4 linked regions of the Homo sapiens genome follow. The protein of the gene in region 2 purifies or fractionates together with the protein of the main gene of each other region. This does not show direct contact. Each region holds a gene or a part of one and is shown on either strand. Other genes may lie near its edges. The genes, in order: GAP43, CCR1, PAG1 and GNG10.

Region 1 (7,262 bases), about 69 Mb from region 2:
TTTTATTTTATTCCTCCTTTGCCCACTCCTTTACCATATTCTCATCTCTACCCCACTCTCATTCTCTTCTTCCTGCTATAATAATCTATAGTGATAACTAATGGCTAATAGAGATCATTTATGCTTTCTTCTCACCCACTGGCAATGTATTCCAACTTAGAAATCCAAGGTTGCTTCTTTATGCCGCTCAAGTGGAAGAGGAAGGAAGTGCAAGCCCTTCAGCCCCCCTCCCACGTTTCTGCTGGATTTTATGGGTGTGGCAGAGCTTAGACCTTTGCAGGTTTTTGCCCTTGTTTTATTCCCTGTTAAGTACTACGATGATGAATAGATGCCAGCAGAAGGATGGGCACCACTGGATTTTGTCATAAATGATACAGAATTTCATCCACAAGCAGGCAACCTGCGTGAGACTTAAGTACTCATGCTACATAAATGCCAGTCAGTGTAGTGTGAGCCCACGCCCTGAATACACCATTTCCTTTAGTCTGATTGAATGGTATCCTAAATACTGGCTAATGTGAATGATACACAACAGTGGTTTATAAGAGACATGACCATTTCACACAGAAGTACACATTTATAAAATGCATGAGCAAAGTAGGACAATTTCTATACCTTTAATTTTCTCTTGAATATAAATGATGCTAAAACACAGAGAGGCATGTGGAAACCACTTACACATGCAACTGTAGCATATGAAGTATGTGGATGCTGTATACATTTACATGCGAATTTCTACAACTCTAAACACAATTTCAGCTTCATCACTTTGCACATCAGAGTGAATGCTTGGGGCTGTTGGTGAGATAGAGCCCCAGGGAAGGCAGCTGTCTTCATTTTGGGAAGGGAATTCCTTTAGCCCTAATTCCTTTTCTAAAAATCATACATGATTTCCTTTATTAAAGGAGATGTATGTATACTTGCATATGTACACATAGGGTGGGAACAAATTATGAACCTGAATATTTTTCTTTCCAAAATTAAAGCTTTTTAAGTGGATGGCTTTGGCTTACTTAGTGCTCCACCTTCCTAAATGTTATTTCCCCAGCTCACCAGTGAAATAACCTCAGGACTTTTCTTTGACAGTGTTCTTAACCCAGACACCTGTATTTATTACATTTATATATTAAAATGAAGGAGGACACAGAGAGAAAATGCCCTGGTTTGATAAAATGAGCCAATGGAAGCATCAATCTCTGTAACCATAGGGCAGTTTCAGGAGATGCTGCAAATACCGCCCCCAACTCAATCCCCCACTATCCGACTTTTTCCCCCAAATAGCCCCACACAATCCAGGATGTCTGCTTATTTATTTATTTATTTATTTATGCCAAATCTCTACTCCCACTGCTCTGACATTCTGCTTCAGTCTCCCATCCTCTTCCTGCTCCTTCTCCTTCATCCTCACTCCCCACCCTTCCTTCCAGGGCGCTGGCTAAATGTGCTAAGCTGGCAGGCTGTTTCTTCTCCACTCTCTTCCACCCCCTTCGGATTCAGGGAGTGTATTACAAATTGCCCAATTTCCAATACCTGCACTGGAAATTATACCCAAATTCCATCTCTTGCACCCCACCCCTAAGGCAATCAGTCTGCGAAGGGCTTCTTTGACCAAGATTGCCCCCACCACACCCCCACCCCCACCACAGTCAAGCATACGCACACACTCACCCGTATCCCACACCCATTTTTCTCTTTAACCTTTGCCAAAATCACTCAAATGCATTCCAACAAATGTTTGAAAGCTTCTTTTGGAGACTGCCATGGCATGGTCGGTTGCTGCGGAATACCACACTCGTCATTCCTTCCCACTCTCACCCCAATCAAGTTTCTAAAATGTCTTTCAAGAAATAAGCGAGCAATTGGAAATGGCTGTAAAACCTGGGCAGTGGGGGAGGGAAGGAGGGGCTCTGATTCTTGCTAATCTTGGATGTGTCCCTCTTCCTGATGAAAATGAGTCACCATACTTATTATCCAGGATGTTAGCCTGTCTCTGGTCACTGACAATCCCAGGAAAGAAGCAAGGGAAGGGGATAAGAGAAAAGACCTGGTTTCCAACAGGTAATACCCGGCTGTCTTTCCCATCCCATCGGAGCTCCTAGGGGCGTGGTCCACCCTCTCCTCCGACCAGCTGGTGCACAATCGGCTGCTGATCTTAGGAAGGGGATTTTCTCCTTCTGCATGGCCAATTTCTCCCCCAGCCCCAGTTGTCTTAGCTTCTCTTAAAAAAAAAAAAAATCTATCAAATCACAGTTTCATTCATTCATTGAAAAATAAATACTAAATAAATAAGACCTGCACGTTTTTCCATAAATACCTGCGCCCCTTCGAAGCTCATGCATGCACGAAATAAGGCATCTTCCGCAGCACATGTGAGAAAATTGTATGACAGAGAGGCAATACTCAGTTCTGAATATTATTTCCTCAACCCTGCTTTTTTGCAAATAATATAAAGAAATGCCTCCCCATCTTGTAGGTAGAGCCCACATCATCTCCCCCACACCCCTTTCTACGTCCACACCCTCAAGACCAGAGACCTCAAATGCTGAGCATTCACTAATAAGAAAAAAAAAAATTATTTCTAGCCAAACAGGCATGTTTTTTCTACCCTCACCCTAATTAGTAGCAGCATTCCAAAACCAGAGCATGAAAGACAGAAAAGAATAAAAGCTGGGATGCAACCATCAGTTACCATATGCTAAGGAAGCGCGAGCACCACGGCCAGAGCAGAAGCAGTAAAAAAATTGTTTGCCTTTACGGGGAAATACTGTACTCGGGTTATTTCACAACAGCAAGAAGTAAAAAATCTTTAGCTCTACCTGTTTGGTTCTTCTCATACAGCACAGCATGGTTGTCTCGTCCCTTGCCTTCTTCCTGCCTTCTCTCCTTTCCTTCTCTCTCTTTCTTATTCCCCCCCTCTCCACCTCTTTTCTGCTCGCTTGCTCACTCGCTCTCTCGCGCTAGCGCGCTCTCTCTCCCTCCCTCCCTCTCTCTCCCTCACACACACCAGGGCAGTTAGCAGCAACTGTAAGGTCCACAGCTATTGCTCATCGCACATGCTCGCTCCCTCTCTCTAGCGCTCTCTCTCTCTCTCCCTCTCTCTCTGGTGCTCTCTCTCCGCTGTCCTCTCTTCCCTCTCTTCTCCTTTTTTCTCCTTCCCCCCAATATCTATCTATCTGTCTTTTTCTTCCCTCTCTCTCCGTCTCTTTCTCGGAATTGTTCTCTAGCCTTCAGTGACTAATCACTTCCCCCAGCCCCTACCCCCATTCTAGACAGTCGCCCCCTCCCAGTCCCCTGCCAGCCTCATGAATATTTAAACACCTCCAATCTGGACCCAATTACCCACCGACTTTTCCACTGCATTGAGAGGGTGATGGGGTGGGGGCAGAGAAGGATATTCCAGTCAATCCAGGAGATATGATAGAGCATGTTTTAGGGAAGAGGGGCTTGAGGAATCCTTGTATTTCTTTAAGAACTCTTTTCCTCTTTTCCTAGTATTATAAAAGCAAAGAACAGCTATTTCTAAAGAGGAATTGTAGTCAGTCCTATACAATATAAGTCATATCTGCCATTACATTTTATGCATAGTTAATAATTGTGGAGGTTAATTTCCCTCAAAAAATGAAATAACATGTAAATATCATACACTGTTTATATATTCTTCTCAGTATACATATAACCTGAAATAAATACAAAGCTTAGATATGCACAAGCATATTTTATATATGTTCCAATATCCTGGAAAAAAATCCACATAAATATATTGCATTTTAAACATTCTAAGCACTTGAGCTCAGAAATAATAAACAATGTTTAAGAATTGGCATCCATATCTAAAATCACATGGTAGTTTTTTGTTTTTTCCTTAATGCACATATACCTGTTTGTAAATTGTGGTTTCTTCTAATTTTACTGAAAAAGCTGAGCACATTCAAACAGGTCTGTGTAATATTGACGGTGATCAAAATGATATTTTACAATTTGGGCATGAGAGATTAAAGTGAATTCATCTGAGATGAGAAGAAACGATAAGTCATGAAGCCTACTTCTTGAATTCCTTCTATGGCCTTTCATAATTTTGGGGGAGGAACATGTGACTCTTAAAGTGTGTATAGCACAATTTTTAGTTATTTATTGTTGAATGAGTTTGAGTGTGTTACTGAAGCTCTTTGCACCTAATTTTCTCATCTTTAAAATGGAGATAATAATGCCAATCTTGACAACATGTTTTGAGGACTAAATGATATAACGCATGCAAAGCACAACAGTCTCTCTGAGTGTATAATAGCTTTACTCCAGAGACTGTACTTTTCTGAAATTCGGGTGACATTTGCAAGTGAATATCTCAAAGAAGTTTTCAAACTATTTCTTGTTGTTCATTAGTGATGACAAGTACCCCTAATTAAACAGCTCATATTCTTCATAGTCCCTCCTAGACCTCCTAGACATAAACCTAGCTAATAAGTGGCAACTAGGCAGCTTATTGTTAGGCATATTTCAGGATCACTGAGCTCAATAAGTGCTTAGTACATTTTAACATAATTTAAGGTATATCTATTTCAAAATGGACTATCTCAGACAGGTACCTGGGAACGATGGTGATGATGATACCCAGGAGGTGATATTTAAAATTAGCCTTAATTATTCCTCAGGAGTCTTCCTGAGAGTGGCCTGCTTCAGATCCGCTGATTTGGTCTTTCATTCTTCTCAGTTTGCTTCCTAGTTTTCATATTTATGATTAAAAAACAGAATTAGTTTCTGAGTTTAATAATTTTTTAATGTTACAAGGAGCCCAGCCGCTTTCAGAACAGCCTTCCGTGATTTTAAGTGATAAAAGAGGACAAAGAGTGGGTGAGAAATGGCTCCTACCAGAAACATTCCGGTTGCAGATTAGGAACACCCTACCTAGCCTGCTAGTGGCTAAAGAGCAATGAAGGGAGGAGGCAGAGAATGTGGGGATTGGGGATGATGGAGAAGAAATTGCACCTTTTGGTGTTTAAACAGGATAACTCCATTGATAAGACCATTTCATTAACTATGTGGCCAAACTTAAAGAGTGGGACTAATTCCTTTCCCTTTCGATGTACTCACCTCAGCCATCCCATTTATATTTTTCCCCCTTTATATATGGGAAGGAACCTTGGAAACAAAGTGGCATAATGAAGTTAAACAAGCTAGGGCTTAAAACTGGGCACAAGCATTGATGAACTTTGTGACTAAATATGTGAAACCACCCAGCTCAGAATCAGCTTCCTCATCAGTTTACATGCATTATTTTATCTAATACTCAAAATGAGGTAGGCACAAGTAGTAATCCCATTTTGATGGGGATGCTAAAGCTAAGGGAAGTTAAGTGCCTTGACTAAGTCACAGAACTAAGAAGTAGTAAAGCTAGGACTCTATGTCTCTTAACAACTAGGCTACATCAATCACCACTTAATAGGCCTCTACTCTTCATTACTTCTAGTCCTTAAGAGATTAAACTACATAGTGGAAGTTTTAATGTTGAAATGAAATCAGCATTCAATGTTGAAATGAAATCAGCAAGATCCATCTTTTAGGCCCAACTCTTACTTCAAGAGCCATGGAGAATAAGCTGATATCTTCATGCAATAGAGAGCCCTCTATGTATTTCTGATGAGATGTCTGCTCCTTCAACTACCCTCAGGTGTCTCAGTGTGTAAGGTCCTCACCATTTTGGATGCCTTCCTCTGGACATACTACATTCTGTCAATGAACCTTTAAAAATTACCTCCCAATTTGGAAGCCTAAGATTCCAAATTTAATTTGAATAACATGGAATCAATTCTAATGCATCTTTTTCTCTAAGCAATGGTGGTTATGGATGGCAAAAGAATAAGGGAGAGACAAGCACAAACTGATATGAGCTTTGCAAAAAATATATAAAAAATAAAATAACCGATGTCCCGATTTTTGCCAAGCAAATACACAATAGACCCACTAATCCTTGTACTTTATAACTAATCCTAGACAATGCATAGGCTTAAGCCCCATGGCTAACCCTTTTACAATTTTAGATTAGCAAATTAACTCATAATACTATCAATTAACTTCTTGACTATAGGTTAGACAATAATAACATTCTAGAAAAAGATGAAGAGTGGTGGAGGCCAGATCCCAGTTCCACGCTCAGATCTCTTTGAACTTTATACTAAAGTGATACTGCTTGTATAATAAAACCAAAAGTCACTGACCTTTACTAAGGGCTCTGTAAAATAGTCTACCATTTTAAGATTATGGCTGGTACTTGAGAGAAGACAATGTCATCAATTCAGGTAGAAAAGATGTTAGTCTTATTTCTCCCTTTTTTAAATTTTATTTTATATTTTATTTTATTCTATTTTATTCTGAGACAGGTTTTCTCTTTGTCGCCCAGGCTGGAGTGCAGTGGTGCAAACATAGCTCACTACAACCTTGAAATCCTAGGCTCAAGCAATCTTCTACCTCAGCCTTCTGAGTACACAAGCCTTCTGTGAACTACAAGTACACGTCACCACTCCTGGCTAATTTTTTTTTTATTTTTTATTTTTGTAGAGACAAGGTCTCATCATGTTGCCTAGACTGGTCTCAAACTGCTGGCTTCAAGCAATCCTCTCACCTCGGCCTCTTCTCTTATTTTTTCAGTGCTTAATCTAAGCCTTTTACTTGCTGCATTAGTTTTCTAGCATTGCCGTAACAAAATAGCACAGACTGGGTGGCCTAAAAAACAGAAATGTAATTTCTGACAGTTCTGAAGTCTGGAAGTCCAAGATCAGGCTGGTGGCTGAGTTGGTTTCCTCTGAGAGTCCTAAAGGAAGGTCCTTTCCAAACCTCTTTCCTGCACTTGCAGCTGGCCGCCCTCTGCTGCCTCTGCACATGGCATGGTTGCCCCCCTGTGTGCATGTGCACCTCTGCTCTCTGTCCCTGTGTATCGTAAGCTCCCCTTCATAAGGACACCAATCAAATTGGATTAGGGCCCACACCTATGGCCTCATTTCACCTTAATTTTCTCTGTAAAGGGTCACATTAAAGATCTCCAAATACAGTCACATCTTAAGGTACTGGGAGTTAGGTTCCAACATATGAATTTGCAAATAAGGGGGACATAATTCAACCCAAACACCTGCTTTCTCTGTCCATACTTGCTGTTTTCATTCACTTAATCTATAGTTTCTATGTTGCAAAAATCATCCTTCCCTCAAGGAAAGTCACACGTACATGAAAAGCAAAGCAAACACTGTGTGCACAAAATATGATTCAATGTC
Region 2 (4,137 bases):
ACTTTCCTCTCCTTCAGGAGGTCTGCAAAGTGACCTTAGATCTACCTGTGCCACCTAAGGACTGTGCAATGTGGGTCAGGCTCAGCCCACTCTGGTGCCCTCAGTGTCCTCATCTCCAAAATAATGGGGTTGACCTACTAGGATTTCACTATGGCAACACCACTGGTGTTTGGGGTAGAATGATCTCTGCACTGTAGGACATCCTTGGCCCTGCCTACCAAATGACGGTAGCATCCCCCAGTTTTGGTGACAACAACAACAAATGCCCACACATTTCCAAGTGCCCCAAGGGTACTAGGTCACTCTCGGCTGAGAATCTTCTTAGACCAAAAGCCATGAATATCTGTTTGTATCTTTCTCTGAGCCAGGACCATTTTCCTTCTCAGAGTCCTCCTGTGGGCTCCACAGTGCAAAGCTACTGCTCGGGGACAGCAGCAGGAAAGCGTAGTGGTGTCAGGGCCGGGCATGAGAATGATGCACAGCTGGGTTGGAGCTCCAGGTCTGTTCTCACAAGAGGTGTGTCCTTGAACATGTTTCCTAACCACTCTGAACCTCTGTTTCATCACCTCTTAAATAAGAACAACAATGGGACCCCTCCAGGGCTCTTTAACCCTAAGTCCAGTGCCTAGGCCATGGGGGTGCTTAGGAAGTGTTGGTTATGAATAGTATGGTAAGGTCTCCCTCTGGCTTTCCACCCATTGAACTTATCCCTTACAAAACTCTTTGCTGAAATGATTGAATTAATGATTTGTGCACTCATTTACTTATTGCTTCCACTCCCTGTTAGACTAAGATTCCTAGAAGGCAGAGAGGATCTGGGTCTCTCTAACACTCCATTTTGTCCCCAGGGCATGGTACACAGAAGGCACTCAATAAACATTTATGGAGTGGCTGAAAAAATGTTACCTCTCCCTTGTCTTTACTGTCCAGTGCCCACTGCCTTTAGTAGCAGAGTAAAGACAAATCTTTTTTTTTTTTTTAACCTGTAGGAGAAGCCGGGATGGAAACTCCAAACACCACAGAGGACTATGACACGACCACAGAGTTTGACTATGGGGATGCAACTCCGTGCCAGAAGGTGAACGAGAGGGCCTTTGGGGCCCAACTGCTGCCCCCTCTGTACTCCTTGGTATTTGTCATTGGCCTGGTTGGAAACATCCTGGTGGTCCTGGTCCTTGTGCAATACAAGAGGCTAAAAAACATGACCAGCATCTACCTCCTGAACCTGGCCATTTCTGACCTGCTCTTCCTGTTCACGCTTCCCTTCTGGATCGACTACAAGTTGAAGGATGACTGGGTTTTTGGTGATGCCATGTGTAAGATCCTCTCTGGGTTTTATTACACAGGCTTGTACAGCGAGATCTTTTTCATCATCCTGCTGACGATTGACAGGTACCTGGCCATCGTCCACGCCGTGTTTGCCTTGCGGGCACGGACCGTCACTTTTGGTGTCATCACCAGCATCATCATTTGGGCCCTGGCCATCTTGGCTTCCATGCCAGGCTTATACTTTTCCAAGACCCAATGGGAATTCACTCACCACACCTGCAGCCTTCACTTTCCTCACGAAAGCCTACGAGAGTGGAAGCTGTTTCAGGCTCTGAAACTGAACCTCTTTGGGCTGGTATTGCCTTTGTTGGTCATGATCATCTGCTACACAGGGATTATAAAGATTCTGCTAAGACGACCAAATGAGAAGAAATCCAAAGCTGTCCGTTTGATTTTTGTCATCATGATCATCTTTTTTCTCTTTTGGACCCCCTACAATTTGACTATACTTATTTCTGTTTTCCAAGACTTCCTGTTCACCCATGAGTGTGAGCAGAGCAGACATTTGGACCTGGCTGTGCAAGTGACGGAGGTGATCGCCTACACGCACTGCTGTGTCAACCCAGTGATCTACGCCTTCGTTGGTGAGAGGTTCCGGAAGTACCTGCGGCAGTTGTTCCACAGGCGTGTGGCTGTGCACCTGGTTAAATGGCTCCCCTTCCTCTCCGTGGACAGGCTGGAGAGGGTCAGCTCCACATCTCCCTCCACAGGGGAGCATGAACTCTCTGCTGGGTTCTGACTCAGACCATAGGAGGCCAACCCAAAATAAGCAGGCGTGACCTGCCAGGCACACTGAGCCAGCAGCCTGGCTCTCCCAGCCAGGTTCTGACTCTTGGCACAGCATGGAGTCACAGCCACTTGGGATAGAGAGGGAATGTAATGGTGGCCTGGGGCTTCTGAGGCTTCTGGGGCTTCAGTCTTTTCCATGAACTTCTCCCCTGGTAGAAAGAAGATGAATGAGCAAAACCAAATATTCCAGAGACTGGGACTAAGTGTACCAGAGAAGGGCTTGGACTCAAGCAAGATTTCAGATTTGTGACCATTAGCATTTGTCAACAAAGTCACCCACTTCCCACTATTGCTTGCACAAACCAATTAAACCCAGTAGTGGTGACTGTGGGCTCCATTCAAAGTGAGCTCCTAAGCCATGGGAGACACTGATGTATGAGGAATTTCTGTTCTTCCATCACCTCCCCCCCCCCGCCACCCTCCCACTGCCAAAGAACTTGGAAATAGTGATTTCCACAGTGACTCCACTCTGAGTCCCAGAGCCAATCAGTAGCCAGCATCTGCCTCCCCTTCACTCCCACCGCAGGATTTGGGCTCTTGGAATCCTGGGGAACATAGAACTCATGACGGAAGAGTTGAGACCTAACGAGAAATAGAAATGGGGAACTACTGCTGGCAGTGGAACTAAGAAAGCCCTTAGGAAGAATTTTTATATCCACTAAAATCAAACAATTCAGGGAGTGGGCTAAGCACGGGCCATATGAATAACATGGTGTGCTTCTTAAAATAGCCATAAAGGGGAGGGACTCATCATTTCCATTTACCCTTCTTTTCTGACTATTTTTCAGAATCTCTCTTCTTTTCAAGTTGGGTGATATGTTGGTAGATTCTAATGGCTTTATTGCAGCGATTAATAACAGGCAAAAGGAAGCAGGGTTGGTTTCCCTTCTTTTTGTTCTTCATCTAAGCCTTCTGGTTTTATGGGTCAGAGTTCCGACTGCCATCTTGGACTTGTCAGCAAAAAAAAAAAATAATAATAATAATAAGGCCTGCTGTGTAAGCTGACAGTATTTGTAGCTGATAGGGGGTTGGGAGGAAAGTGTCTACTAGGAGGGTGGGGTGAGATTCTGTGTTGATGTAGGAGGCCGAGAAGGCCCTTAACTCAAAGTAGCTTATTTATCCAAAATGTTCTGGATGCATCATCTCCAACCAAGGACCCCTTATTTATCATGCCTTTGTTCTCTTTTCCCTCAGATGTATATTTCTTTAAAAATAATTTTCCTAATAACAAAACTTATTTCTAAAACAGCTTAAAAATTCAAAGAAAAACCCCAAACACTGACATTACCTACACTTCCACTACCCAAAGACAAAATGTGCCCACTGTGTGCTTTTGAGTGTATTTTCTTTTAGTTTGTTTTTTGTTGGGTGCATATTTATGATAATAACAATGATGGACTTCAATTGTACTCACTGTTCTATTGTTGGTTTTAATTAGCAGCAAGTTGTGATCACTTTCCCAGGTGAATAAATCATTTCAAAGCATTGTTTTTGGTGCCTGCACTGAAGTCGTTGGCAGGGATGCACCCTAATTTACTCCACCTGTTTACCCACTATTGCTTGCACAAATCAGTTCAACCCAGCAGTGATGACTGTGGGCTCCATTCAAAGCAAGCTCTTGAGCCATGAGAGACACTGGTGCATGAGGAATGTCTGTTCTTGCAGGGTGCTCAGCTCAGTGAGCCAGACAGACACAGGGATGCCAACAGGGCCCAGGCAGCATGGCAGGGGGTTGGGGGGACTGCAGAGCTCAGGGTGCCAAGGCAGTAAAAGGGAAGAAGGAATCATCAGTCAGAAGACACCCTAAGCTGACGGGTGTCCCACCTTACAATACAGTGACACCATTGGGCTGACTTTTCTCCTTTTGTGGACACTAGAGCTGCACTCTTACCAAACCACACACCCCCTTCAGTGGGAATTGTGTTCACATGTGGTCTTTGTACAAAGAAGCTGGTGTCATGATGGTCTTGAAAACTTTTGTCTGGGATAGAGGAGGTCATGCCACCTGGGCTTACACCC
Region 3 (7,034 bases), on a different chromosome or scaffold from region 2:
GAACGTAAGGTTCAGCTTTCCTGATGCTTTTCACATTGCTTCTCCTCAAGACATGAGCATTGCTGCAGGCATGGCCATCTTCCAGGACATGGGCGGGTAGTGGCACATAGGAATTAAATCCTAGCATGGCTCCAGGAAAAACAAGACAAGTACTATACTCAAAAAGTAAAGTTAAAAAAAGCAAGCATGCTTAAGGGATGGGTCATGAACACCACATCAGGTTCATTTATGAGTCTTATATTAAAAATACATAGAAGCTTGTCAAAGGAATGCTCAAAATCCTCAACCCATAGACTCAGGCTTTTGGTCCCAGCCTCTTCTTCCAGAGAAGGGCACTGCTGTCTTTCAGGGAAGCCTTCACTACCTAAATGAGGAGCTAAAGATTAAAAAAAAAATTCTCTTTAAGCTTAAGAAAAGGAAATAGTTTGCTTTAAACTCATGGTTTCCAACTTGTTGAGTTAAAAACAAACCAAACCAAACCAGGACATGACAACAAGATAGTTCTGAACTGTAGGCTCTAGGGAGCAACTGGTCCTTCTTTTAGCTTTAACTGTGTCCTATTTAGAGTGCCTAACAGGTATACTAGGGGAACTTTAAAAAACTAAATGTATAAAGAGAATGAGCAGAGATATCTGTTCTGCTAATTTTGAAAAAAAGTTACACTCTAAAATGTCCATTCAAAGAATTAACTGTGATGACTTACAGCAAAGTTTTACAAAACCAAATGAAACACCCTGGCTCCTGAAGTATGTAGAAAATGGGAACTTCAGCAGCTGCACCTCCAATTCACCTATCCTAGGACCTAGAAGGTGCTTGGTTTCTCACTCCAAAGTCAGGCAGTTTGCTATAAATGGCCAAGTTATTCTCCTTATCTGGTAGCTCTACCTTTGCATGCTGAAGCACTCACAGTTTTCTTAGGTCCTGGGGGATCAGAGCAAACTGGCTGTAACTTGACATCATCCTTAGGCACTGTTTCCTGGGGGAGAGGGTGCAATGGCTTCATGGTGAAAACATTTTACACTCAATTTACTTTAAAAAGGTTTTTTTTTTGTTTTTGTTTTTGAGATGGAGTCTTGCTCTGTCGCCCAGGCTGGAGTGCAGTGTTGCGATCTCAGCTCATTGCAACCTCTGCCTCCCAGGTTCAAGTGATTCTCCTGCCTCAGCCTCCTGAGTAGTTGGGACTACAGGCACATGCCACCATGCCTGGCTAATTTTTTTTGCATTTTTAGTAGAGACAGGGTTTCATCATGTTGGCCAGGCAGGTCTCAAACTCCTGACCTCAAGTGATCCACCTGTCTCAGCCTCCCAAAGTGCTGGGATTACAGGCATGAGCCACTGCACCCGGCCTAAAAATGATTACTTCTTATAAAAAGGATTTCTTCCCCTTCACAACACTCAGCTTCCTTTTTCTTTCCTGGTAACTATGGGTCTGGTGTTGTCATAAGGATCTACCTTCCACATGCTGGACAGTGGGGGTTGCTGCTTGAGGAGACTCAGGCCAGATACAGATCACTGTGGGGAACACTAAGCTTACTTGGTTAGAGCACGGCACTAACATTTCTGCCTCTGTGAGTTTGATTCCACCACATAATTTTTTAAAAGTGCTTTTCCATGGCCCCTTAGTGTCAACCATTCTTACGAAAGATGTGAGCAACAGTGTACATGTTTTGGCAAAAGTCGTGACAAATAGCACCAGCATCTGCCGCCCTAGGTGGACCTGTGGCCTCATCTTGGCAGCCTGTGAGTTGGGCAGAGCTGTGACGAGGCATGGTTCTGTGCCGGCTGGCAGGGTCTGTGATATGGCAGCACTGTGATCCGTACTGGAAAGACATAATGGCATGTCCTGTGAACAGCAGATACAGAAGGCTGAGTGGGGAAGCGACCCAGGGGTATTGCCACACAAAGCGATAGGCCAGCTAAGTACCAGGAGACAAACTGAGGTGGGAGGAAATAGTGACTTCATGGCCTCATTCTTTAGACTTACTCCTTAAAAGGACTAGATCCGGGGAGGGAAAAGTAATCACAAAATGTTCAAGCTAATAAGAGATATTTTTGGTCTTAAAACTAAGGTTTAAAAATTCCCAGTACTGAAAACAACTTTCTCACTCTTTTGTGAATTGGACAATTTGACCATTATGAAGATCTTTTGAAACAATCAATGAAAATGCTACTAAGTGTCATGAATTATTTTTTAATATTTTTGAGTAAGGGGAGTACTTTAATACTGATTGGGCCCATGTAATAGACAATATGTCACTTTTGGTGTAACTATTTTTATGAGGAAAAAACATTAACAATGAAATGCCAATTCCTATTTATAACAGACCTTTTTTGTTTAGATATATTTCAAGTTTCCCCAGAAAATATGAGGCATGTTAATACAACACAATTATTTAAAAGGTAACAACATTAAAACATTTTACTGCTGCCAATGTAACATACAGACATCTGAGAAATGACAATTATCAACCTTTGTAATACATGATTACGCAAGGTGATATGAGACAACCCAAGGGTAGCACATTTTAAAAAATACCCACAGTATATAACTGGCAAGCCAAAAAAACTTCCTGTATTAACAGAAATGATTACTGAATTGAACGCTTTTTAAAAAATGTCTTTTAAGCAAAAATTGTATTTCTCTTTTCATGTTACATTAAGAATTTGGAATATTATTTTTCAGTTAAGTCAAAGAAGAACTTGAAAAAAATAATGACATACTTCACAAATAGTAGAGACTAGATGTAAACACAGACCTAAAAATGAGCAGTAGGATAAAAAAAACCATGAATGTTTGTTCTCTTCTGGACCATGATTTTAAATTTTAATTTGGTAATTCCAGATAAAGATTCTAATTTATCATGGTTTCTGGACTGATCTCTTTAAGTTAAACACTTTCAGTCTAAGTGTGTTCAACTGGCCTAAAGCCACTGTCAGGAAAAATGTATTTAGGAAAATATACAACACAGGGCAAGAAAATACTACTGTAGAATAAGGAATTTAGATTTCACTGCAAATAAAGCCATATTTGATATTAAAGACACATGTTCCTATTTTCACATCAGTCATTTATTAACACCAAACATTATACTTTAACTTTTCCCCATTACACAGTACAATAAGCCTGTCAAGATTTCCAGGAAGTAATCATCAGTACCTACTGTGCTTCCAGCAGCCAAAGCTAAGCTGGCTGGGTACCAGAAATCAACACCTTCAGGAGAATGGCATCACAAGATTGCATGGACTCATATTAACTATTACAAGGGGCACTGGAAAAAAAGGTCATTTGCTCATTTACAAAATCCTAATTGAACTAAAGCTCTGTAATTATAGCCATGGTATCAGACCAGCTTTTTCGCACATCCTATCACATCGCTGCCTGCTGATGTTTTACACTGCCTATAAAGTCTCATAATTTTAAAAGGGAATGAAACAGAATGCCACAGGTGACCGACCTCTGCTCCTGCTACTTGGGAGTCACGTTGTCTTGGCTTCGTCCTGGCTCAAGGTTACTAGTCTCTTGCTGCTTTGGGCCAAATCTCTTATCTCTTTACATTTCCTCCTCTCAGGCTGAGTCAAAAGTAAGTCACATGTATAACAAAACTGTCTTAAAATACCACTGTTTTTCAGCCAAGAGAATTACGGATGCAATTTAAAGTCTAAATGTATTAATTGGAAAAATTAAATTAGAGCAACTCAAGGTTTTCCTGTAATTACCAAATGAAACTGATTGAAAAACTGTTCCTTCTAATTCTGCTTTTCCAACAAAAGTTCATCACACTAGCAGGATAAACATTCAAAATACATAATAGAACATATCCTAATTAAGCACCAGAGTTGTGTCAGAGCCAAGTATATACACACACACACGTATACGTGTGTGTGTGTGTGTGTGTGTGTGTAGTTTATTACTGGTTAAGTAAATGCTCTAATTAGCAAAAATCATGAGAAATATATACAGTGATATAATGCGGTTAAATTTTAGTTCTCTGTGTTAACTACTTACTGTTAATTTAGTACTCAATTAGAATTAACTCTGGGATTTTGAGGGCAGATAAATCAGTAATTAGCCTTTATCCCAGAAAGAATAGTGGTAGCTTCAAAAGCTTCAACAGACCTAATGATGTAATTTATTCAGGACAGAAAAAAAAATATGTAGCCAACATTCTTGCAAGAATTACTTTCTTATGGAATTTAAGATTTCCTCAAATATTTTCTTTTCTATATAGCGTTTTGTTCTTGTGTAGTTATCTGCCTAGGATACAGACAGGATATTGAGACTATTTCAGAAAGTAGACACACTAAAAACATTTGACAAATTAAAAAAATTTTGCATAAAACAGGTTACCCTTTCCTGCTGACTATACTTAAGAAATACCAAAGTAGCATACAAAATGCTTCTAAACTTTCAAAATATCTGAATAAAAACAAAGATCCTACTTTTAACTGAGATAGATTTATAATTCTTACTTACAAGATAAAAAAATTTCCTAAAATTTATTTTTAAATTTCACATAACCTGCTATAATTCGCTGTAAAAAATGGATGTCAAAATAGAATTTTAAATATACAAATTGTTTTTGATAACTACCTTTCATACATTTTATTTAAACTGTAGCATTAGCTCAAGATGAAACTTTTTAAAAGAAACCATAGGCTTTTGTCCAACTCAAAGATTCAAGCCCAGATTCTGAACAAAGTAAATGTGATGAAATTTATGAAAAACTATACTGTACAGTCAAAACAGTGATGGTGCCTCAGTAAATAACTTCAGTAAAATATCCAGTGCTCCAAATAGCTGAGCCATCTTTCTAAGGTTCACTCTGCTTCTCTCCCCCAGCCCTCATGGCCTGTGCTACCATCTATTCTTTTAGCGTTTATGCTGGAGGGCCTTATAGTTCCTTTAAAAGTACACTGAAAATACTTTATATCACAGCTTATTCTAACCACTGGTTCTCAAATTAAAAGGTATATTTCAGTGCATATTTCATAGCCACATTGCAGAACTAATATTTGAAAACTCTTGGGGGAAATTTTGGTAACAAAATTGCAAAATGACATGATTATTTATGAGCTTTCTATAAAAAGTTTTTTTTTTTTTTTTTTTTTTACTTTAGAGATCATACCTACTTTCCTGCCTTTTTGATAAGTAAGGCATGAAATGAAACAAAAGTTTTGAGCTGTAAGGTGCCTATAAAGGATGTCACTACAGCATTCACAATGCTAGGTGTGTAAGATGACATGGCTGTTACCATGTACTAAAGAACCCCATCATGTGAGAGATCGCTCAAAGTCATTAACACAAAGCAGTGAAAATCATCCAGCAAAGCAGTGCTTATGAGAGACTAGAATTCAGAGAAATGCAAGGTACGAACTTCTCTCTAATCCAAGGGTATTCTGCTGTGATCTTCTAATCAGTGATGATTGTGCTTATGCACACGACATCTTCATGGGAGAGACCAGGCTGATTGCAAAATAATGACAACCAACCAGTTTACCTCAACATAGCTCACTCTGCAATGTCAGACATGCAGTGTAGAGCAGTCACAAAGTCAAGCCATGAATACAGGGATGGAAAAACATTCCAGTGAGCTGGTCTCTACAATTTTTAAGACACTTCATCCTCCCAATTATATTCTTTGTCATAAAGAGGAAAAACAGCAAGATTATTAAATCCAAAAAGTCACAGATGTCACAAGGGGATGAAATAATTTCCTCATTTTTTTTCTTTATCAGTGTAGGAAAAGCTGTCTTTCCATAGCCCACACTCATAATAGCACTTCAACTAGGCTCCTTTGAAAATGAAAAGTGAACAAGTTTCCTAATGCTGGCCTTATAAGATCTAAAGAGATGATTAAATTCAAACCAGGCTGAGCTCTTACTCTGAGCTATTTCAGCCACTGATGTTTGTAAAATATAGGAAGAAGATTCCAATAGGCAATTTGCATTGGCAAGCACTGGACTACAGAATTCATCACTGTTTTCTGAAAAAATATAATTAAACCTTAATGGAATTATGACACTTTTATGAGGTTTATAATTCACAGCCACCTCTCATCATATTTTGTTCTTCTTTCCATTTTTACCATTTCAAATATTGCAATATTGCCCACCATAAACCACTGAAAATGATTATTTATGTATATTCCATTTATTTCTCTAGGGGGTCTAGGTAATTTGAATCAGGAGCTCCAAGTACCATTTAAAAAGGTGAGTCTTTAAAAACCATCAGTGTTTTAAACACTTGATTAGAAAAAAGATAACAGCTCCTTGTAGTGATCTAGCTTATGTGCTTTATGGTATCTTTTCAAAAGGAGAGTATAAATCATTGTACATAAAATCAAAATAGCTAATATACATTTTTTTCTGGCACTTTTGAGAAATTAGGCATTGAACATAAAACATCTTATAAACTTACATAACAAAAATAAATGTTTACATTTTAATCTTAGATTACCTTAGGGTAGCAGTTAACTTATGAGATGCCACACTGTTGGTGTGGGCAGCGGAGACCATGGGAAATACACATTCATGTCCACAGCCCTTCAGCGATGGATGCATGGCTGCCGTCCAAATATGTGGTCTGTGTCCCAACATAAAGATTAAGGCTCTCTGTTTTGAAGGAATGAGTTCTGGGCTTAAACAAGTCTAGAAGTACCACAATACTCATGGAAAATACTGAAAAGATTCGGACGAGTTTTCAAACACTGGGGGAAACACGTTTTTGACTAGAAAAATAAAATAAAGCATCTAAAACTGACTTCAAGTACTTTGGGGAGAGGCTGCTGATATCGAATGCCAAAATAAGAAGGAACAAAGACAGAAGAGACTCCAGGGACGTCCCTCCCCATCCCTTCACCCGCAGGGTCCAGATCCCCAGGTGCTGATGCGCAACTCTTTGGGGAGGACTGGCGAGCTGGGCAGAAAGCAGCAGCCATGGTTTGTCACCATCCTAAAACACCTATATTGAGGGCAAAGGCCAAGCTTTGTGTGAAAATTTCCTTGGGATGAACCACAGGAATCTGGACATTTCA
Region 4 (7,280 bases), on a different chromosome or scaffold from region 2:
TAAGCCCAAATACTTGCAAGCTGTCCCCTGCCATTGGTGGTGGGATAACCTCCACCCAGGTTACCTGACTTTCCTTGGTTTGAGCCCATGTTTACCCAGCAACTTCTGTGAGGCTCCTCTAAAGGAGGAGTTCTTGGAAGGATACCAAGCATTCCTATAGCTGGGAAGGGATGTCCTCTATTATATGCTAGAAAATTGGTGTCCTGGTTTATTTTTCAGATAGCAAGTCTGTCAAAGAGAAGACACCTCTGGCTATGCTAAGCACATCCAACAATGAATGAGGATGTGAGGTAGACCAGACCCTGGAATGGTTGTGACTCTCTAAGGTATTGTCTGAGGGAAGCCCTGCCAAGTACCCCAGATCATACTTCCATGAGCGCACCTCTTAAATAGGCTTATTATCCTATTTGTAAATAAGCTTACTGCGAGCTCAGGCAATTCACCTGAATTATATGGCTCTCAGTTTCATCATCATTTTTAAAAGGTAGATAAGCACATCTTTCCGGCCAGGTGCCATGGCTCATGCCTGTAATCCCAGCACTTTGGGAGCTTGAGGCGGGAGGATCACCTGAGGTCAGGAGATCGATACCAGCCTGGCCAATATGGTGAAACTCCATCTCTACTAAAAATACAAAAAAAAAAAAAAAGCCAATTAGTGGACGTGGTGGCAGGTGCCCGTAATCCCAGCTACTCGGGAGGCTGAGGCAGGAGAATCGCTTGAACCTGGGAGGCAGAGGTTGCAGTGAGCTGAGATCATGCCATTGCACTCCAACCTGGGCAACAAGAATGAAACTCCATCTCAAAAAAAAAAAAAAAAGAATATCTTTCCTCTTTCTTAGCTACTTGGCGGGTAGACAGGCATCTGACTGGCTCACAGTTTTCCTTTCTACCTCATGTCCCCACATTGTCTTTGTGAATTTCCAACAACCCTCATTTCAGTTCCCTGACTTCTTCCCCTCAAACAGCCTTCTCCTCAATGCCAACAGATACAGTTACAACACCTGTAACTGCTCCACTTCTGAAATTTTACACTCCAGTATCCTACTCTCTGATCACAATCTCTCCTTCCCATCCAGGGTGCTGCCTCCTTTATTCTTCCTTTATTCTGCTCTGACCTCACCGAGATCACCAGGCATCACCTCCTCCCCTTCTGTCTCACCTATCACCAGGAGGCTGGCTGCATTCCTTCTCTATCCATCTAGGCTCAGCCTCTTTCTGGCCAGACCTTCACACGCCTTGCCCTCCGGCCCCACCTCCACCTTTCTGGCATACCTCCCCTGCTAACTTACTCCTCTTTCAACTACCGTTCACCTTCAGCACTCACATTCCAGGATGGTAAAGATTGCTGCAGGAAAAAAAAAAAATCACAAATATGACCAGCAGTCTCCCTTGTCACAGCAGCTGGGTCTTCAGTCACAGCGCATCTGCGTGCCTGCTCAGGGGCCACTCCCTTAGTCCCCTTTCCTCTGCCTTAGAAGAAAACCTGGCCTCCTATTTCACAAAGAAAAGTGTCACCATACAAGTTTAGCCCATATCTAGAAACTTATCTTTACACACACCCTTACCTTCTTTCTTCCTGTCTCAGAAGCTGTGCCACCAATCCCCCACCCCCCCGTAGCCCTGTCTCCTCTACCAGCAATTGGCTTCCATTTGTTTCTTCCCTGGAACCTAAAAATATAATTTGTTACTTCCTCTCAACCCTAAAACATGGCTTTTCATTTCCTAAGTTAAAAAAACACGTTATTTCCTCTTTAAAACTAGGTTTCTTTAAAAAGAAAAAACGTCTGCCTACCCTATGACAGTCCAGATTCTGCTTTTACTAACACATAAGCCACCAGACCTCTGCATTCCACAGCCCTCTCTCCCTTTACCCTGTTTATTATCTTCACTCCACTTAGTACATGAAGCGATGCTATGTATCCGTTAAGTTGCTGTTTACCTTCCCCTCCAGAACCACCCTATTCCCTGTAGCAGTGCCAGGCACACAGCAAAGGAGAAACTGAGGCACAGGGACTATCCTGGTTGTGTTCCTTCTTACAGATCTTCTGCAAATAATGCTGCACTCGTAGCTAAACACAGCTCTACAACAGACGCCTTTTAGCCAACTGACTAAACGCTGGACATGTTGACTGAGCCCCCAGTTTTTGGAAATCCCTACTTCCTTGCTCGGAAACCTTGCTGTCTCTTATTTCCTCTTCTCTAGGCCTTGCTCGGAAACCTTGCTGTCTCTTATTTCCTCTTCTCTCGGCCACCGGCCATCGGTGTGGCTGGTCCCCGGGTCCCAGGCTCTGAGCTCTGCTCTTCATAGAAGAGGCTTTTTCGCCCCAATGCACTTGAATGACCTCTTTCAGCCCTGGGCGCTGAGCTTCAGGCCATGAGGACAAATACCTCCCGGATGACTCCCCGGAGTCCCCAGGTCCGCAGCCGAACTCATCATTTCCCCAAACCTGTTCCCCCTCCTCTCTACCTCGGCGGGTGGCAGCGCCGTCCACCCTGTCACGACGACAGAAACCCGAGCATCCTGGCTCTCCTCCCTCTCGCTCTCATCCTACCAATCCATCACCAATTCGCCGCCCTGCGGTGGCCTCCCCAGCCCTGGGTCCACCCTCCCGGCCCGCGCGTCGCCGGCATCCCTTGCGCCCTCCGAGGAACTGACCACGGCCGCCTTCTGGAGTGGGCGCACCCCCAGGGACCGGGACCGACCACGACCGCGGGGCCCCCCAGGCGCGGCTTCCTCCCGTCAGGCCCGGGCCCCCGGCTTGCCCCGCGCCCTCCCTCACCGCGGACCCCACCGCCCCCGCGCCCCGCCGAGGCCTCGCCGCCGCCACCGAGTCCCCCGCTGGCGCCCGGTCCGGGCCGCCGGCCTCCTCTTCTCACGCCCCGCGGGCGGAAGGACCGGAGCGTGGGTACCCGGGGCCCGCACCTTGATCCTCTCCACGCCAGCCTCCAACTTGAGCTGCTCTACCAAGCGCTGCAGGGCGCTCGCGCTAGCCCCGGAGGACATGGCGGCGGCGCTGGGCTCCTAGGGGCTGCTGGGCCCGGCCGGGCGGGGAGGAGCCGCCAGCCCCGAGCGCGGGTGCCGCCCCGGGGCGGGGAAGCAGCTGCGCCCGCCCCGCCGCCCCAGCCCACCCGGCGCGGAGCCGCTTGCCAGAGACAGCGGGGACCCCAGCGAGCTGGCAGTGCTCTCCGCTCCTCAGCGCCTGAAACCTGGGTGGCACCTGCAGCTGGGCCTGGAACCGAGGCGGGGACCCGCAGAGCGCGGCGTCCTCCAGCGAAGCTGGCGCCCCTAGGATGAGCAGGAATCGCGAGGGCGTGGGACGCGAGGATGGAGTGGGCGGCAGCAAACACGCACCCCTGAGAAATGAGAACTGGAGCCAAGGTGTGACATGAGTTGGAGAGATAAGGGGCCTTGCCAGACAGTATCACCGGGGAACCAAGGAGAGTTCATAGGATTTTCATGAGGCAGCAACAGGTTTCTAAATGACCCTGTTACTGTTTCACGGAGATCCTACCAGTTGATTTGGTGGAGTATGGTAAATTGGATAAAATCCCAGACCCTGACATCTTTGTGAAACATACAGAATAAAATTAAATTCAGCGTTTCTCACTCTCATCTCACCATTTAACTGTCATCATTGTTTCTATTCTGCTGCTTTTTTTTTTTTTTTTTTTTTTTTTGAGACAGGGTCTTGCTCTGTCACCCGGGGTGGAGTGCAGTGGCGTGATCACAGCTCCTTGTAGCCTCCACCTCGTGGGCTCAGGTGATCCTCCTGCCTCAGCCTCCTGAGTAGCTGGGACTACAGACACACACCACCACGCCCGGCTAATTTTTGTATTTTTAGTAGAGACGGGGTTTCACGATGTTGGCCAGGCTGGTGTTGAACTCCTGGGCTCAGGTGATCCTCCCACCTCAGCCTCCCAAAGTGCTGGCATTATAGGCCTACTGCATTTTTTAATAAGTGTTTTACAAAACTGGGATCGTTACTATATTTAAAATTTTTGTGTTGCTTTTTTCCATGTATCATTAATACGTCATTATTCTTGTACACCATTGTATTTGTCAGAACTCACTTAAACTGAATATTGCAAAAGGTAATATATTGGCTTGTGTAACTGAAAAGTCCAGGGACTTTAAACTAGTGAATTCAATTACCCAAATAATAATTTTGGGGCTCTCATCCTCCTTGTTTTGATTCTGCTTTTCCTGAGATTAGCCTCATTTTCCTTGGTGGTAGATGGACTTCTCTAGTGGTATGAAGGAAGGCACCACACTTTCACTGTCCCCATCTAGCAAACCCAGGAAAAATAGTACCTCTTTTCTTTCTAATCGTTCCAGCAAAAATCCCCATAATGAACCTCACTGGCTGGTATTAAGTCATGGGCCCACCCCTGGCCCAATTACTCTTTGAAGGCAAGGATGTGTGGCATTGACGTGCTCAGATTAGCTGTGCCTGGGCCAAAGGGAGACTTGCACATTTGAAAGCCCTCTCTAGTGGCCAATTTCCTCACCACAAAGAAATTAATATATATCTTAGTAAAGAGATGAAAGTACATGTTGGGAACATTCAACAATCAATTCTGAGACTGATGAATAGGACAAAATAGAATGATTTCATATTTAAAAGATATGGCAAAGAACTCAGTGCAAAGATATACATACTGGATTAGGAAAGGCTCATCATAGATCGTGAGAGCTGGACTTTGGAGATACGTGTCTTGCAGATGGCTCAGAAGGAAGAACAGTCCAGTATGGAGGACAGCTGGAGGCGATGCACACATGTAGAGTGAATAAATTTAAAAATAGAGGAAGCTCTAGTGACTAATAGCAGATACAAAGTTGCTAGGGCCAGAAGTCATAGAAAACCTCACATACACACAAAAGTTTATGGTAAACAGTGGGATAGCCACAGGGTAAGGCATTTTGGGAATATTAATCTGAGATGAATGTGCAAAATGAACTGAAGTTGAGAAGATAAATGGCTGATGGTGGGGGAGTAGCTGGAATGAGGCCCTGGGTAGGACTGTTAGAGTAGGAATGAGGGGGAACAAATTTAGAAGACAAAATCAGTGGTACTTCATGGTGGTTATGAAATGCAAAGAAAAGAGGACAAAGGGTTCTGTAGCAGAGAGTGGGCCAGAACTAATGCCAAAACAGAAATTAGGAAACAAGACTTGGCTTGAGATGAGTAAAAAATAATGTGGGGTTTGGTTTAGGAGTAACGAAGTGACTTCCATGGCATTGCTACATGCCTTTAGGCTGCTGAAAATGTTTAGTAGCCAAGATGTTAATGTGAAGATGTCTCCACAGCAATGGCAGCTGAAATAATGAGATTACCTCAAAATCATTAGAAATGAAGGCTTTGGAGTTGCCCTCAATGAAGGGACACACGTCAGCCATGTCATACTGTATCAGCCACGAGGTAGCAGGAAAAGTCTAGGGGTGTGCTGTGTCTGCCTCCTTCATGCCCTACACACCCACTGCCCCGCCCACCTCAGTGTTACTTTGCACCGTTCAAGAGGAATGGTCTGTGATCCATGGATAAGCAGGCCGGGCGCCACTTGTACTTGAGGAAGGCTGACCATCTGTGTGATGCTCCACACTTTCCCCACAAGACTTCTCATCCATTATTTTTGCATCATGGAACTTCAAAGTTGAAGGGAACCATCAGATAGTGCGGCGCATCTACAATTTCAGAGATGAGGAAACAGATCCACTAAGGAAAGTGAAGTGACTTGCCCAGTATCACAGAAAGTGGGAGCAGGGAAAAGAATTTCATTTTAGCTTTCAAGAGAATTCAGGCCAGACGCGGTGGCTCACACCTGTAATCCCAGCACTTTGGGAGGCCAAGGCGGGCAGATCACTTGAGGTCAGGAGTTCAAGACAAGTCTGGCCAACATGGTGAAACCCCGTCTCTTCGGGGTTTCTACCACGCCTGGCTAATTTAAAATACAAAAATTAGCCGGGCGTGCTGGCATATGCCTGTAGTCCCAGATTCCTGGGAGGCTGAGGCACAAGTATCGCTTGAACCCGGGAGGTGGGGGTTGCAGTGAGACTGCGCCACTGCACTCCTGCCTGGGCGACAGAACAAGACTCCGTCTCAAACAAAGAACTCAAGGTTTACCTAGAGGACCAGAGGCCTTTCCCACATGTGCTGTGATTTCCAGAGCTCTGGAAGGTGAGGGATGGAGACAGAGTACCCTTCTTTCCTTCTCACTACAGCTAAAATGCATGGGTAACCAGTAGAATATCTTTCAAATTTTGTCACACATTTTTTTCCCTGGTTAAGCACAAACTTATCTCATTTCCAAGAAACTTTCTAGAAATGTCATTACCCTTGTAATGACAAATGTTTCATTTGTTTCCCTGTTAGGAGCTACAGTTCTTCACTCCTCTGACTTGTATTTTATCACCTGTCTACTAACAGTGGATTATTCTTCCAGGAAAGGGGTTTGTGAGTCAATCTTCTCCATAAAAATAATGACATAATGGGAAGATATTTCTGCCAATGTTATATCAAAATGACAATAATATATACCATCTATAGTTTCCAAAATGATTAAGAGTAGGAAAACACATTAATAACTATATCTAATGTGACACAGTATCATGTACTATAAAAATTATTTTACTTCTTTTTGCCTATTACATTATTTTTAGAACCCAGAAATAATGAATCAGGAGCTGAAAGAATCACCAGCAGGTTTGTAGATTCAGAATGGCTTTTCTGGAGAGATTTTCACAGGTACTTTTGAGACTTTGGGAGACGGCAGAACTTAGGGCTATTAGATGTCTTTTTGAGCAACCATTCTAAGCATATCTGTTTGCTACATTGAAAATGTCCCTTCACTAAATGTAGGCCTTAGACTAGCAACTTGCTGATCATTCTGTCATCTCTGAAAGTTTTTCTTTCTTTCCTGAGTCGTCATCTCGGCTGCTCCACCTTGCACACTGGTGGCAACAGGGCAGGCAGCTGCTTTTTAAAATACACAATTCCAACCCTAAGGAGCATCACTCCTTCACTCTAGCACCGTGCCTTGCACAAGGGATTAAAATATGTATTAAAAGAATAAACAATGGGTTTGTAATCATCACAAAACACACTCCTGTTACCATGCTTTTTTTTTTTTTAACAAATGAGACTCTTTGTTATTCCCTCTGAAGGCAAAATAACTCACATTTCCTGATCACTTAATATATGCCAGGCATTTTACCCTTGTTATCGTCTAAGAACTGTCTGAAATAGTATCTTTACATGAAAGAAAACAAGGCTCACAGGTTA

Evidence for each region.
Region 1: the proteins of CCR1 (region 2) and GAP43 purify together in Homo sapiens (affinity purification with mass spectrometry; 3 studies listed by BioGRID and IntAct, with this or other methods). This does not show direct contact.
Region 3: the proteins of CCR1 (region 2) and PAG1 purify together in Homo sapiens (affinity purification with mass spectrometry; 3 studies listed by BioGRID and IntAct, with this or other methods). This does not show direct contact.
Region 4: the proteins of CCR1 (region 2) and GNG10 purify together in Homo sapiens (affinity purification with mass spectrometry; 2 studies listed by BioGRID and IntAct, with this or other methods). This does not show direct contact.

What each region holds. Positions count from the first base shown.
Region 1 is NC_000003.12:115,619,274-115,626,535, reverse strand, and holds the start of GAP43 (neuromodulin), read right to left. Parts: upstream 3,027-7,262; 5' UTR 2,847-3,026; coding exon 2,817-2,846; intron 1-2,816. UniProt on the Homo sapiens protein: This protein is associated with nerve growth. It is a major component of the motile 'growth cones' that form the tips of elongating axons. Plays a role in axonal and dendritic filopodia induction.
Region 2 is NC_000003.12:46,201,177-46,205,313, reverse strand, and holds the end of CCR1 (C-C chemokine receptor type 1), read left to right. Parts: intron 1-989; 5' UTR 990-1,000; coding exon 1,001-2,068; 3' UTR 2,069-3,603; downstream 3,604-4,137. UniProt on the Homo sapiens protein: Chemokine receptor that plays a crucial role in regulating immune cell migration, inflammation, and immune responses.
Region 3 is NC_000008.11:80,969,065-80,976,098, forward strand, and holds part of PAG1 (phosphoprotein associated with glycosphingolipid-enriched microdomains 1), read right to left. Parts: 3' UTR 1-7,034. UniProt on the Homo sapiens protein: Negatively regulates TCR (T-cell antigen receptor)-mediated signaling in T-cells and FCER1 (high affinity immunoglobulin epsilon receptor)-mediated signaling in mast cells.
Region 4 is NC_000009.12:111,657,359-111,664,638, reverse strand, and holds the start of GNG10 (guanine nucleotide-binding protein G(I)/G(S)/G(O) subunit gamma-10), read right to left. Parts: upstream 3,035-7,280; 5' UTR 3,005-3,034; coding exon 2,924-3,004; intron 1-2,923. UniProt on the Homo sapiens protein: Guanine nucleotide-binding proteins (G proteins) are involved as a modulator or transducer in various transmembrane signaling systems.